Regions from separate parts of the Homo sapiens genome. Here region 1 is linked to region 2. The links come from fine-mapping of genetic effects on gene expression. Tissue or cell type: whole blood. Region 2 holds a variant in brackets; the other region holds the start of a gene. All regions are shown on one strand. Distances are between the middles of the regions.

Region 1 (8,097 bases), 120 kb after region 2:
AGTAAGTATATCCATGTCATGCATATGTTCAGTAACTTAGCTCTGTCTCTTCAAATCTCTTTTTGAAGTAGATCTGTAAATAAAACTCAGCTCTTCAGAAACAAATTTCTTCATGATACTTGAACTATTTAGTTTGTTATTATTGAGGATATTCTCATAAAGGCGGAGGAAAAATACTTTTCCCAAGCAAAATCCAAGTTAAATATGTTGAAGTAAATGAACCAAACACTGGATTGTTGAAAAATATTTAGTCATTTATTCACCTCAATTAATGTAACTTTAGGATACAGATTCTTCTGTGATTTTATTATCTTCTCACCCCATTTAGGTTGCGAGTTATAAGGACTCAGCATCATGTAGAAGCACTTGTGGAGCATCAGAATGGCAAGGTTGTGGTTTCGGCCTCCACTCGTGAGTGGGCTATTAAAAAGCACCTTTATAGTACCAGAAATGTGGTGGCTTGTGAGAGTATAGGACGAGTGCTGGCACAGAGATGCTTAGAGGCGGGAATCAACTTCATGGTCTACCAACCAACCCCGTGGGAGGCAGCCTCAGACTCGGTATTTTTGTTTTCATGTACTTATTGAAAAGGTATTGTGTTAATTCTTGGCATTAGATAACTTACATAATAATAACAGTTTTTACTTACCAAATACTTTCCATGTGTCAGACCCTTTGGTGAGTACTCAACAGTGTTACTTCATTTAATCCTCACATCAGTCCATAGGGTAGGGACTAGTACTCTCATTCTATACAGAAATAAACTGAGGCTTACTTGCCCAGAGTCAGTGTATGGTGGATTTCAAACCCAGGGTGACTGATTCTGTAGTCCATGATGTCAGCCACTGTATTTCCTGTTCATATATTGACATCTTGTCCATATAATATTTTGAAATGCTGCTGAACCTTGACATCTCTACATTTCCTTTTTACTTACATCATTATTAAGATCACTTTCTGAAAAACCGTTGTAGGCTGGGAAGTTAGCAAGAACAAATCAATTTATTTCTGTCTTTTGGAAGGTGAAAGTATTTTCAGCCTACTCGTGCTGCTGACTTAATCTTTTCCTTTTTTTTCTGATTTTCAAAACCAGATGAAACGACTACAAAGTGCCATGACAGAAGGTGGTGTGGTTCTACGGGAACCTCAGAGAATCTATGAATAAATGGAAGCATTAATTGTTTTGAACATGTAAATATAAATCTGTCAGCCACTACAGCCATCAAAAGAGAGCATCTGGAAGAACAGCCAGCTTGGAAGTTTTACAGCAATAATGTTGCAGTGGAATATTATTTGTAGTTAAGGTCATCCTCCTCCCCTTTCTGTTTTTTTAAATCAAGAACTACGTTCTGCCCCTCTCTTGGGCTTCAGAAGCATCTAAGAAAAGCAGTCATCAATTATAATTAACTTTCAAAGGGCAAGTCAGAAGTTGTTTATAAATTACAAAATAAAGGCATATTATGAACTCTTATTTTCTGGTTATATGACATTGTCTGAGCTCACTGTGGCAGTGGAGCACATATGAGGTTGATGTAAAGCACTTATTACTGTGTCTAGTTCATGGCGAGTGATCTCAGTGAATGACAGTTGTTTGCTGCTCGGAGTGTGGGTTGTTTTTTAAAATAGGAAATGTCAGTATCAATCTAATACTATAGAACAGTCAGTATGTGAAAATGAAAGGACCAAATGCCAACCTCACTTGGACTCTTGGTTCCCAACAGTAAGAGAAACAAATTTGAAAGAGGAAGGAGGTGGCATCAGGAGCTGAAAGCAGAGGTGGAAATGGTTGGGGTTAGTGGGCGCTCAATTTGCCATGAAGTGAACATTTTATTAGATAGGAGATGAAACTTGAAATGCATGCAAGTTAATCTAAAATTTGAGCTTGGGTAGATGGGAATCATGGCAGTTCTCTGAAAGGAGCTGATTAAGGTGTTAATTTTTGGCTATTTGATAAATGTGAGAAAAAACCTGTAGGCAGTTAAGGTGGCTTCTAGAGCATTGTTTTCCAGTTTTTTTAATGTATACCCCAATTAAATGTTTGTTTAGAAGTGAAATATGTTACTTCTGCCAATTTGAGTATTCAATGTGTTATTTTAAATGGAACACATCTGTATGAAGTATGATTTGTTCTGAGAGGTCTTCAGAATCAAATGGCTTAATAGTCCCCTTTTGCTTAATTAATGTCCCGGAGAGGCATTTAAAAGTATAATTGAAGATCGGATGCAGTGCCTCACACCTCTAATCCCACCACTTTAGGAGGCTGAAGCAGGTGGATCACTTGAGGCCAGGAATTCGAGACCAGCCTGGCCAATACGGTTTAACCCTATCTCTACTAAAAACAAAAATGAGTTGGGCGTGGTGGTGCATGCCTGTAATCCCAGCTGTTCAGAGGCTGAGGCGGGAGAATCGCTTGAACTCAGGAGGTGGAGATTGCAGAGAGCCGAGATGGCACCACTGCACTCCAGCCTGGGTGACAGAGTGAGACTGTCTCAAAAGGAAAAAATAAAGTATAACGGTAATGTTTTCTCCGCTAACCTTAAAGATTGATTTGAGCACCTCACTTTGAGGACCATAGTTCCAAAACGCTGTTCAAGTAGAAGCCTAGAATTCAAGGGAGGACACTGTAAGGAAGACCATGGACTAGTTGCACTGGAAACAGTAACAAAAGTAAAAATTAAGCTCACATGTATGTGATGATGTAGGTAGGGATTTCCGCAAGGAGTGAGTGCACGAGATAATCCCTGGGGACCAAGGATTCCTTCAATTTAATGGGCAGTTCTTGAGGCTTTGCAAAGTTTGATTGCAGGTGTGAAGACAGTGGTAAGGTGGACAGCAGAATGAGGAAAAAGATGTCCAGGGGCGTGGGAGAGGGAATGGGGACAGACATACTGGCAGTGATGGAGAAGTTGGGAAGAGGTGATTTAGAAGACCGTGAGCCGCAGCAAAGGATCTGCTTATTGCAGTTGCGTCCGGTGTTGTTCCTGCTCCGCTTTTCTGATTTCACCCTTTCTGGACTCTGTCTTCGTCTCCTGCCACGCCTCTTAACATTCTAAGTCCATGTAAATGACATTCTCACGTTAAGGGCTGCAAAGAAATTGCTGAGGAGCCAGGTAAACAGGCTTTGATTGCAATTGCAATCAAACCTCTGTAGCAAATCGTACAATTAAAACACCCGCAGGCAGGTGTGGGCGACGCCAGCAGCACACGGGGAAGCTGGGCACGTGGGGCGGAGGCAGCTGCCTGGTTTCCATGTGTGCGCCCTTTAAGACCCGGCGGCGCGACGGAAGCGCGTGGGCAGCACGTGGGCAGCACGTGATAGCGCTGGGCGACTCCGCGGAGCTGCACGGCCATGGACGTGGGCGCCGACGAGTTCGAGGAGAGCCTCCCTCTGCTGCAGGAGCTCGTCCAGGAGGCCGACTTCGTGGGTGAAGAGCCTGGGATTCGCGGCTGTGCCGGACAGAGCCCCTTGCCCCGGGCGAGCTTGAGGAGGGGGTGGCGGGACGGTTGCCAGGCCACAGGGCCTCAGAGAGGGCCTCGGGAAGGACAGGGGGGCTTCCTTCTCCAGCCCCGGGGCGGTGGGACTTTGAGCAGCAAGTACACTCCGAGCCCCACGTCCCTTGTTGGCCAGAGCCCCGTGCGCCCAGGTGCCTGGCTGCTCCTTGCCTTGGTTCCTCCATTTTCCCTTCCTGACCTCACTTGGCTTCTTGAGCGCAGAGGTGAGCGCGGGTGCCTTGGCCGCCTGCAGATCTACAGTGTGAGGAGTGCTGGCGATGTTCTGCACCCGAGGACTGCTATTTTTTGCCTTCCTGGCAGGTCTGGACATAGAGTTCACGGGCCTTCGTTCTAACCTGTCTGGGCCCCAGCAGATCAGGTAAAACTAAAGCTGTGTCCCCTCTGTATAAGAGCCTGGCCAGACCAGCACTGTTTCTGGCCAGCAGCCTGTTGGCATTTGGGGGGCAGGACGTTTTGTGTGGCTTGCTCCTACGTGTTGGAGGACCTTGCTTTTTTCTGTCCACTAAATGATGGTAGTGCTCCCTAGTTGTTGTAACAAGGAAAAAATCCTCCCCGGTTGCGAGTGGTGGTCCTGCCGCGGAGGCCATAGTGCCGGGATGGGATGTCATTGCTCGTGGAATGAGATGCCTGTTTGTTCACAGTCTTTTTGATTTGCCATCGGAGTGGTATCTAAAGACCCGTCAGAGTGTTCAGCAATTTACAGTCTGTCAGATTGGTGAGTTTAATATCAGCTGTTAGAGTTTTTCAAGAAGGTATTTTTATTGTCCTTGGATTTCCTACTGTAAAAACAGCTCTGAGATTTTTCAAGGATATTGAGTATCGTTTTGTATGCTTGTTTTGTGTTGGGCCATTGTATACATATGGAAATCAACACTTCGGAGCAAACCAAATTTAGCAGCATTGTTTCCGTGCTTAAATAAGTCAGTATTAAGGAACACTCACTGTTACTCTTTCAAGTAAAACTGTGTGTGTGCGATTTTTATTTTATTTTTTGAGACAGGGTCTTGCTCTGTCACCAAGACTGGAGTGCAGTAGCATAGTCTTAGCTCACTGCAGCCTAGACTTCCTGGGCTCAAGTGATACTAGCACGTCAGCCTCCTGAGTAAACTGGGACTACAGGCTCACCACCACACCTAGCTAATTTTTAAATTTTTTGTTCAGATGGGTTTTCGTCATGTTGGCCAGGCTGTTCTTGACTTCCTGGGCTCGAGCAATCTTTCTGCCTCTGCCTCTCAAAGTGATGGAATTATAAGCGTGAGCAACCACACCTGGCCTGTGATTTTTTTTTCTTAAGAAAATTTACACACAAAAATAATTTTTTTTAAGGTCATCTCAGTTTCAGAAACTTTTTTTTTTTCCTTGATGGGATTTGGAGATCTTTCTGTATCGGTTCATACAGATCTATTTGTTGATTTAGTTATTAGTTTATTTTCTGAGATGGAGTCTCGCTCTGTTGCCCAGGCTGGAGTGCAGTAGCGCGATGTGGGCTCACCGCAACCTCCACCACCCAGGTTCGGGTGATTCTCCTGCCTCAGCCTCCAGAGCAGCTGGGATTACAGGCAATTGCCACCAGGCCTGGCTAATTTTTGTATTTTTAGTAGCGATGGGGTTTCACCATGTTGGCCAGGCTGGTCAAGACAGAGCTGTTAACGGTTGCGTAATGCTGTTTCTTTTACAGCTACTCAATCCTGCTTTTGTAATGTGAAATTAGCTGTAGAGAATACATGAACAAATGAGCATGGCTCCATTCCAGTAAAATGTTATTGTATTTACAGAAACAGACCCTGGGCCAGATTTTACTTTTCTGGGTTTGTCTGTGCCCTCTCCCGCACCATTGGGTTTTTGCTGTGTTGCCCAGGCTGGGCTCAAACTTTTGGGCTCTGGAGATCCTCCAGTCTCAGCTTCTGAAGTAGCTGGGAGTGCTGCCACGCCCAGCCCCTGCTTTTACTATGAATGATGCTGAACGTGTGTGTGTTTTCCTCTCTATCCTGATCCTTTGCTACTTTTCTGTTATGGTTTTTTTTTTGTTCGTTTGTTTGTTTTTAATTATAAGACCTCTTTGAGAAGTATAGGAAACAGTTGTAGTTATGTTTCCATTGTTGTACCCAAATTTGTTTGGGGGGAAGGGGGACAGAGTCTTGCTCTGTTGCCCAGGCTGGAGTGCAGGGGCACGATCTTGGCTCCCTGCAACACCCTTGCCTCCCAGGCCCAAGCAATTCTCCTGCCTCAGCCTCCTGAGTAGCTGGGATTACAGGTGCGCGCCACCACACCTAGCTAATTTTTGTATTTTTAGTAGAGACAGGGTTTCACCATGTTGGTCAGGCTGGTCTCGAATTCCTGACCTCAAGTGATCCACCTGCCTAGGTCTCCCAAAGTGTTGGGATTACAGGCATAAGCCACCGCACCTGGCCTGAAGTCTTTTTTTTTTTTAACTTTGCATATGGTTTTCTTTGAGGGGGGAGGAATAGACATTTTAAATGAGTTAAATATATAAATCTTAATGGTTTTTGGTATTTTCTGTGGATAGTTTTAAAACTATGAGAATGTCATTTTAATATTTACTTCTGTATTTGAAGAACAGGCCACAATTAGATTTTAGCAAATTCAGTGTGAATTACAATTTGACATTTCTCATGCTTCCAGTCTGTCTTTTCTTTTTTGTCATTAAAGATGTTATCCTGTTGTACAGCCCACATAGTATCTGTGGGCGCAAAGTACTGTTTGAGTTGTTTTTGTCTTTGTAGTGAAATTCAGGTTGCTTTTCCTTGGCATTCATTCCCTCTACGGTCATTCTTCCAGGATTGTCTGTGTTTTCCGCTATTGAAGGAGAGGCAAACAAGTATGTATCAAGAGCTTCTGCAAACATAGGTGCTTCCCACCTATGTTCCACAGCTGCCACCTTCAAATTCTGCCTCAGGTGCCCCGATCACTTTTGCCCTGGATCTTCCGTATTCTCTCCTGTGTCTGTTCCTCCACTCACTCTGCCCTCTGCGGATTCCAGCTTGTCTTTGATGTCTCTCTGGAAGCAGTACCTTTCCCGCCAGCCTTGCTCTGTACCTTAAGTGCTCCTTTCCCCATTTCCATTGTCTCCAGTGTGCACCTATATTAATAAAAGCGCCTGACACAGTGTGGTGTAATGAAAGTGATGTTTAAACTACCTGACACAGTAGGCAGAAAGGATGCCCCAACTATCAGGATGCCTCCCCACCCCCCATGAGCAGTTGAGGGTGCCAGCCTGCACGCCCTAACCTGGCATCCCTGGGCAGCTTGTGGAGGGGCTGTCTCTGTGGTATACGCTGGCCCTGAAGGCAGGCTCTCTGCCTTTTTCATTTAGCACCCCCAGTGCCAATCATAGCTCCTGAAACACAGCAGACACTCGGGCACACTCAGATTCTTCTTGCCTAAAAGAAAGAGCCCACCCTGAAGCCAGCCCTGGGAGCCAGAGTTTTTTAAATGGTTGTGGCTTTTTCTCTGTATGTTTGTTTTATTATAGGTATATAGCCCATTCTTGTAACTTCTATCTCTTCCCTACAACGTTTGGGATTTTGGACTCAGAATTCTCCTTCCAGGCTTCCAGTGTTCAGTTTTTGAATCAGTATGGCTTCAACTATAACAAGGTATGGCATTGGAGGAGGGGAACGGGAATGTCTTTTGTTTGTTTCTGAGATGGAGTCTCGCTCTGTTGCCCAGGCTGGAGTGCAGTGGTGCAATCTTCGCCTCCCGGGTTCAAGTGATTTTCCTGCTTCAGCCTCCCAAGTAGCTGGGATTACAGGCACCCGCCACCATGCCCAGCTAATTCTTTTTGTATTTTTAGTAGAGACGGGGTTTCACCATGTTGGTCAGGCTGGTCTTGAACTCCTAGCCTCAGGCAATCCACCTGCCTCGGCCTCCCAAAGTGCTGGGGTTATAGGCATGAGCCACCGCACCCGGCCTGGGAATGTCTTACAAGTGATCTAGACGAACTGGCTTATACAGCCCGTCTCCTTTCCCCTTTCTACCTGTCCTCGTGAAATCAGGCACAGAGGATCCCTCTGACTTGTCTCCTTGTTCTGTTTGTTGTTCTGTTTCTGTCTTAAGTTTCTCAAAAACGGAATCCCATATATGAATGAAGAACAGGAGAAGAAAATTAGACACGATATCCTGACTGGGAACTGGAGAGTTCGCAGGTATGGCCTGTTTCTCCAGGTGCCTTTTTGTTTCCTTGTTGCTGTTGTCTGCATTTCCCGTGGGCGGGCGTGCCGTTTCCAGGAGTGTGGTGACCTCCATCCATGCTTGGCGGGGATGGCTTCAGCTGCCTGTGCAGCTGGCGCTGCTCTCCCTGTGCCCCAACTGAGAATGGCTTTCACCTGTCTCCATCATGTTCCACTCCCTAATGAACCTCTCACTGCGTTGAGTGTGAGTTTCAGTGTTTAAAAAGAAAAAGAAACTGACTCCTAATTTGGAACTCAAAGAAACAAGAATTCCATTCCAGTGCTAGAGGGGAAGAAATCGTTCTGTTGGACTTGCTGTGAGATGTTATGTTGATCCCCCATGTGATCTTCTGAGGGATTTTTCAAGGATATCTCTCGGGCAACCTTGACTGTG
Region 2 (8,105 bases):
ATAAGCTTCATGTAGTGATTTACAATTTTGGTATACAGCCATACCACCCTGAAGGCACCCGATCTCGACTGATTTACAATTTTGCCTTTAACTTCTGCTTTCCTGAAATTTACCACTGCCTTTAAATACTCTAGCTTGTAGGTCATCATGGAGATTGGGTCTCAAGCATGAGCTGCCCAATTCTCCTTGCTTGGCGCCCTGCAAATAAACATCCTCCTTTCTCCTACTGCAAAAACCACCTTTTTGCAGTTTTGCTGTTGAAGTTTGCCTTTACTGTGCAGGTGAGCAAACCCCAGTTCAGTTCACCTGCTACATTTAAACAGTATACAGCTCTATTTGCAAAAACTATACAGGAACATTTGACCTAACAAAAACCACTGGGTGACATCTACCAGAAGTATCACTGCAGAGGATTACTCGACAAAAAGTGCAATTTTCTATAGAAAGCCGAGTGTTTCCCTTGGGAAAGTGTTAATATTTTATTTTTAAGTAACTGGGGCAAAAGACTAGATTTTCTATAACTGCAATAGAATAGGACTAGAAAGGCATCCCTACAAGTCCCCAAAGTATATGGATGGAATATTTTTGATGGTTTTATAAATGACAATTGTAATTTAGCTCTCTGAAGAAAATGTCCAATCAGATTCAATCACACAAAGCATTTACTATTTTCAATCACTTGCCCAATAACAAAATGTTTAGTAAGAAATTATTCAGAACATTAAGTTGTTTATGAAATAAGTGACTAAGCAACATCAAGAAATGCTACAATAGAGCAGCTTACTGTATTCTGCAGTACTCTATACCACTACAAAAACAGTCATAAAGAGCTTAACATACTCAGCATAACGATCGTGGTTTACTTTTTGCAAGCCATGTATCTTTCAGTTACATTCTCCCAGTTGATTACATTCCAAATAGCTTTTAGATAATCAGGCCTGACATTTTTATACTGAAGGTAGTAAGCGTGCTCCCACACATCAATCCCCAGCAGTGGAATAAGGCCTGTTAGAAAGAAGGGGAAAACAAACCAACCATCAGTTTCAGTCTAAAACATTGCATCTTCTCAATTTCAACTTTTATTATTCTACTCACACAAAATTACCCTTTGTAACAATCTCATTCACTTGTTTTTTTATATAAGTAGGAAATCTAGATAAGAATGAATATTCCTATAAAATATTTTTAATTCACTGTTTACAAAGAAAATGTGACAAATACTAACAATAAAATAGACTTGGGAAAATTAACAACAGTACTTTAATAGCTATTCTTAAAAATACCAACAAATTAATTCAAGAGCCAATTCCCAGCCTTCCTCATGGTGGTCTTAGGAGCAGCAGGAAGGGTGGGTTACATCTGTGGGAGCAGGCAAAAGCCCACTGAGAACCTCCTCCAAAGGGTCTGGGCACTCACAGGGGTTTACGAGGAACCAGCTCTGCTCCCCAAGGCTAATTTTAATCTTTGGGAATACAGAGCAGTTGGAGGACACAGTGTTTTCAGAAATTAAGTGAGGTAAATGAAGAATTTAGTTCTATCTGTAAAACATCCATTTAAAAAAACTTTTGGTCTGGGCGCAGTGGCTCAGGCCTGTAATCCCAGCACTTTGGGAGGCCGAGGCAGGCAGATCTCTTGAGGTCAGGCGTTCGAGACCAGCCTGGCCAACATGGTGAAACCCCGCCTCTACTAAAAATACAAAAAATTAGCCTGGCGAGGTGGCAGGCGCCTGTAATCCCAGCTACTCAGGAAGCTGACGCAGGAGAATTGCTTGAACCTGGGAGGCGGAAGTTGTAGTGAGCCAAGATTGCGCCACTGCACTCCAGCCTGGGCAACAGAGTGAGACTCCATCACGCACACACAAAAACACTCAAAATAAATTATAGCTCTCTCTACAAAAACAATTCTTAACCAGTATGTCTTGATCAGTTGTGAGGGAGGTCACTAGTAATTTATTATTAATAATTTCAAGTAGCAAAATTTATTAATGATTTTTATAAACAAAAGGCCATGACATTCCCTCATTTTCCTTCTAATGTGCTTTCCACAGGGAGAGGAAGGAGTGTAGCTGGGACTCACTTACAAATATCAGCCTTTCTGGTCATGCAGCTCTACAAATAACCTGACTCTACAGATCGGTGCTTACAAATTTTTTGTGGCTTTTACAAATTGTTATGCCATGTCACTGTCCCAAAAGAGCTGTTCAGATTCTGCCAAAATCTGGGTCTATCCTGTGAAGTGAGCCACAGATCAAGAGTATTCCAATGTCAGGGGTAGAAGAAGGGGCAGAGAATGACTGTTGTTGATGTGAAGGTATCACTTTAAGTTCAAAGTCCCAACCCTCTGCCAGACAACTCATGGCTCTATTTCCCATACTCTTCAGTGACATTTTTTAAATCCAATTAGGCTCAACAGCAAAGTATTTGGTGAGCCCAGCCTGGCACTTCCAAGCCGAATATTTTCATATACTCTACCAAAGAGCCCCAGAAAGGCAGAAGGTCTGGAAACCTGAGATCTAGTCCCAGTTTAACCTCAAATGCTCAGCAGAGGAGGTAACAGTACAAGCTCTGAAATCAGTCTCTGCTTGTATTTCTTTTCCTCACTCTTGTTCTATAGCTAATTTTTTTTTTATTTTAGTACATATAATTATCTAAGCTGATATTAATTCTCTGTAGAATGAAGCAGGGTTAATAAGTAAAACATTTGGCTGGGCATGGTGGCTCATGCCTGTAATCCCAGCACTTCAGGAGGCCGAGGCAGGCAGATACCTGAGGTCAGGAGTTCAAGACCAGCCTGGCCAACATGGTGAAACCCTGTCTGTACTAAAAACACAAAAATTAGCTGGGCATGGTGGTATGTGCCTGTAATCCCAGCTATTTGGGAGGCTGAGGCAGGAGAATCACTTGAACCCAGGAGGCGGAGGTTGCAGTGAACCGAGATCGCACCACTGCACTCCAGCCTGGGCAACAGTGAGATCTGTCTCAAAAAAAATAAATAAAAATAAAACATGTTTGTTAATGTACCTATAAAATTACGTGTACTTAATTTTATGAAATATCAGGACTTCTAAAACATTTTTACTTACACAAGACTCTGGGTGTTATCTGTTAAGATTTGCAAATTATTACATGTTCTTAAAACACTGTTAGTTTTCCTTATTTCTAGTTGAATGCTTTACAGTAGAGCATCTCTCCCAAATGAAATCACAATTTTTAAATCTAACCTGTTGTTCCTTGCAGTGGATCCTGATTTGGACAAGCAGCAATTTGTAAGTGTCCCCGTTCCTTATTGAAACCAAGCCAACCCCAACCTGAGCCTTGGACACCAACAGATGCAGCCGTCAGCTTCTCCTTAAACTTGTCAAAGGAACCAAAGTCACGTTTGATGGCTTCCAGCAACTCCCCTATTAAAAAAAAAATCCAAAACCACCCACAAATGAACAGATTTCAATAATTACAGTAAAATGTTATATTACATGTATTAAAATATTTTTGTCATAGGGCCCAAGAAATTAGACAA[C/T]ATCAGAATGCGACACCTGGATCTAAGTTTCACAATTTTAATTCACGTTTTTGTTTTTTATAACTTCAACTTTTTTTTTTTTTTTTTTTTTTTTTCATTTTTTACCTTTTGAGACGGAGTTTCACTCTTGTTGCCCAGGCTGGAGTGCAATGCCATGATCTCGGGTCACTGCAACCTCTGCCTCCCAGGTTCAAGCAATTCTCCTGCCTTAGCCTCCCGAGCAGCTGCGATTACAGGCACGTGCCATCACGCCCGGCTAATTTTGTGTTTTTAGTAGAGACAGGGTTTCTCCATGTTGGTCAGGCTGGTCTCAAACTCCCAACCTCAGGTGATCCACCCGCCTTGGCCTCCCAAAGTGCTGGGAATACAGGCGTGAGCCACCGTGCCCGGTTCAAATTTTATTTTAAATTCAGAGGGTACACGCACAGGTTTGTTACACGGGTATCATATGATGCTGAGGTCTGGGGTGCAATTGATGCCATCACCCAGGTAGCGAGCTTAGTATACAACAGTTTTCACCCCCCGTCCCCTTCTTTCTCCCTCCCTGCTCTGTCCTCAGTGTCTGTTGCTGCCATTTTTATATCCATAAGTACTCCATGTTTAGCTTCCACTTGCAAGTGAGACATGTGGTATTTGGTTTTCTGTTCCTGGGTTAATTCGCTTAGGATAATGGCCTCCAGCTGCGTAGTTCACATTTTTTAATGAATCGTGTTAGAGGGATTTCCCCACTCACTGTACTATCTTTGTTAGGAAAGAAATACTACTTTCTGTTAGCTTTTTCTTTTCCCTGAATAGAAAATTTTCCTTTGACTTCTACCCTCCTTCTTCTACGCCTCCATTTGGGAATAAAGTCATTGTTCTTCTCCAAGGCAGCCCAGCTCTTCCTGTCTTGATGGGCAGTTTTCTCTACGACTGAACTAAGGGTATACTTTAAGAGCTGTAATCCTTTTATTCTGTAGTAATACAGAATATAATTCTAGATTAGTCACATCAACTAAATCAACTGGGTCAAAATCTCACTTCTCTTATTCTACGGGTTTAAAAGTAATCATCTTTATAAGCACAAATGATGGAATGTGGTACAGATTAAACAAAAATGGCAGCATACCAAAACCACTGGTTGCATATGAATATATCTGATATTCTGGTAACTGACAAAACTTCAAAAGTATTAACCGATAGTCTAGAAGACTGAACTCAGAAAAAAAATAAGTTGGCCAGGCACGGTGGCTCACACCTGTAATCTTAGTACTTTGGGAGGCCGAGACAGGTGGATCACCTGAGGTCAGGAGTTCAAAACCAGCCTGACCAACATGGAGAAACTCCTCTCTACTAAAAATACAAAAAAATTAGCCGGGCATGGTGGCAGGCACCTATAATCCCAGCTACTCGGGAGGCTGAGGCAGAGAATCACTTGAACCCGGGATGGGCAGAGGCTGCAGTGAGCCAAGATCAAGCCACTTCACTGTAGCCTGGGCGAAAGAGCTAAACTCCATCTCCAAAATAATAATAAATAAAAACAAAAATAAAGAAAAAGTTGCCCAGTTTCCCAAGCTTACTCTCCTCATTCATCATTACCTTAAAATGAAATTGCTTATTTCAAGTGCATAAGATAGGCTGCCTTCCATAACACTGATTAAAAATGAACAATAAAACCACAGAAACTTAGGGTGCATATCCGGAGCCCAGAAACAAGAGACAAGAACTACATTTACGCCTCATGCCCTCCCTGGGTGAAGAAGATAATTAAAGTCATCTGGGCCTCCACAAGCTACACAGGAAGTCAAGGAAACAGTGATAGCGAACAAGACCATCTAGCCCTGTACTCTCCTCATTCCCTGAACACTTTTTAAAAATACCCAGAAAACCTAATTTCCTGGAACAACTGACTTTTTATCAGTTAGGAAAGAGTGAAAAATAGCAAATGACACTATAATTTAATTCTCAAAACAACACCATTGTTATCCCTGTATCACATAGATGAAAAAAGGTACAGACGGTTAACTATCTAATCCAGGCCCTAGAAACTAGTAGACAGAAAGTTCATCTTTTCTAGACTGGCGCGGTGGCTCACATCCATACCACAGCACTTTGGGAGGCCAAGGTGGGTGGATCACTTGAGGCCAGGAGTTCGAGACCAGCCCCGCCAACATGGTGAAACCCTGTCTCTACCAAAAATATAAAAATTAGCCGGGAGTGATGCCACATGCCTGTAATCCCAGCTACTTGGGTGGCTGAGACACAAGAATTGCATGAACCTGAAAGGCGGAGGTTGCAATGAGCCGACATTGCACCACTGCGCTCCAGCCTGGGCGACTGTAAGACTCCGTCTCAAAAAAAAAAAGTTCATAAAATGAAGTCTCTCAGTCTTTCCCTAATATGAAGTACCATCCAGAAACCAGAAGGTGGAGTTGATGTGATATTCTATGTTGGCGTGAACATAAAATCTTATGACATAACCCCATGAAAGCATTCTCCATTCCTACTTGTGTCCTTTTGAAAGTTACAACTTTTATCATACTCGTTGTTATGAAAAATATGCCACTATGATACCTCTGGTAAGAATAAGGTAACTTAGGCCAGGCACGGTGGCTCATGCCTGTAATCCCAGCACTTTGGGAGGCCAAGGTGGGCAGATCATGAGGTCAGGAGTTCAAGACCAGCCTGGCCAACATGGTGAATGAAACCTCATCTCTACTAAAAATGCAAAAATTAGCCAGGCGTGGTGGCGGGCGCCTGTAATCCCAGCTACTTGGGAGGCTGAGGCAGGAGAATCACTTGAACCCAGGAAGCGGAGGTTGCAGTGAGCCAAGACTGCGCCACTGTACTCCAGCCTGGGCAACAAGAGCAAAACTCTTGTCTCAAAAAAACAACAACAAAAAAAACAAAAAACAAGTATAAGGTAACTTCAGTAAATCAACAATCGATTCCTACTGTGCACAAAATGTAGATAAGGGTGCACCAATATATACCAACCTTTGGGTTCTCCACCACCGTTAGGGCTGAGGTTTGTCCAGAAAATGCTATGATTGATATGACCACCACCATTGAACTTCAGTGCAGGCTGAAGAGCTATCTGGGCTGTAACATCTCCTGAAAAGTTAAAATGCAAACACATTTTTTTGTAACTCCTACTTTTTCAACCACTGTATACATTATATTTTTTTCTTTGTAAGCTATTAGATAATGGGACCAGCTTATCTATAACATCCGTTTGTCCTAAAATTCAGCACCCCCCCGCCCCAAAATTATTTGTCCCAGACATGCTGAACAACTGATGAAGGACCTAGCAGAGGTGGAAAAGCTAGAAAATTCACTCCTGGCTGCTAGGCTCAGGGATCTCTTAGATAGAAGAGATTTTAGGAAATGAAACACCAAAGAGGACAATCAAAATAATAGAATGCTAAAATGTATGGCTCAACATACAGACTGTACAGAAAACCTTCAACTCTCACTTTCAAGACAGACGACGATTCATTGGGAAATATCTCCAAGTCACATTAACAAGAAACTCAACATACTCAAAATTGAACTCCTGATGTTCTACCCCAAACTTACTCCTCCTATTGTCCTCCACGTCTCAGTAAATGCCAGCTCTGTCCCTCAGGACATCCTTGGGAACCTGATGTCATTTTTGACTCCTCTCCCTTCACCCCACATCCAATCCACCAGCATATCCATTAGCAAAGCCAGCTCTACCTTTAAAATACATCCAATCTATATAAAAGCACACAGAGAAAAATAAAAGAAAAAAATAAAACACAAGCAGAACCTAATCCCTTCTCCCTAACTCTACTGCCACCTCATTGGGACAGAGGACCAGTATTTCTCACTGCACTGGTGCCACTATCCCCTCAGTTTTGGGGGGTGGGGGTGGGCCTTGCCCCCTCCAAAGGCTCCCCTTCTCACTGGAGCGAACCCTAGGTGTTTACACTCAGCTACTCTTACTACCAAGAGGCGCTGCACTTGACCCCGTCATTGAGCACGTGCTCACGCAGCTGCAGCCTCACTGGCCTTTTTGCACTCACATGACCAACTTGGATGTTCCCCTCAAGGCTAGCTGAGCACTGCTGCCTCTGCTGAACACTCTTCCCCAAGACAGTCTCATGCTGCGTTCCTGTTCCTCCTTCAAGTCTCCACTGAAACATCAACCCCATCAGTGAAGCCTTCTCTAGCCACCATACATGAATTAGCAACTCCCTGCCACCCCTCCCAGACCCTTTACTCCTTCTCAATAGGCCCTGTAACTCCTGGCATACTGCATGGGTACCTTGCCAAATAAGTAGGCAAAATAAAATAGTCTTTTCTATGCCTTCAAGAAGCTACAGACTAAATGAACTATTAATATTAGAAAAAAATGGAAATCCTCTTGTTTAATAAATATTTTGTGCATATTATCCACAAGATACCAAGAGAAGCAAAGTAAAGGACACAGAGACCCACTGAGAGCTTTGCTCTCAAGGAGCTTACATTTTGGAAAAAGTTCTCAACTGCTGTTCTGAAAGTGTACGTTAAGAACATATGTCTGGGCCGGGTGCGGTGGCTCACGCCTGTAATCTCAGCACTTTGGGAAGCCGAGGCGGGCAGCT

Evidence for each region. PIP is the estimated chance that this variant, and not a neighbour inherited with it, causes the effect.
Region 1: it holds the start of PNLDC1, and the variant in region 2 is fine-mapped to the expression of PNLDC1 in whole blood (TOPMed, PIP above 0.99).

The regions. Positions count from the first base shown.
Region 1 is chr6:159,796,959-159,805,055 of GRCh38, forward strand. PNLDC1 (PARN like ribonuclease domain containing exonuclease 1) reads left to right here and starts at 3,318. Exons shown (of 19, transcript NM_001271862.2): 1 at 3,318-3,425; 2 at 3,814-3,871; 3 at 4,155-4,228; 4 at 6,313-6,352; 5 at 7,007-7,130; 6 at 7,591-7,679. The coding sequence starts at 3,350. MRPL18 (mitochondrial ribosomal protein L18) reads left to right here. Exons shown (of 4, transcript NM_014161.5): 3 at 329-560; 4 at 1,094-1,471. The coding sequence ends at 1,165.
Region 2 is chr6:159,681,634-159,689,738 of GRCh38, forward strand. It overlaps SOD2 (superoxide dismutase 2), which reads right to left. Exons shown (of 5, transcript NM_000636.4): 3 at 6,493-6,609; 4 at 3,221-3,400; 5 at 1-1,005. The coding sequence ends at 860. Among named protein-coding and RNA genes, the nearest start is that of SOD2, 7.6 kb to the right of the region's middle. RefSeq lists a silencer at 5,684-5,934. The variant C/T (reference allele first, on the strand shown) is at 3,517.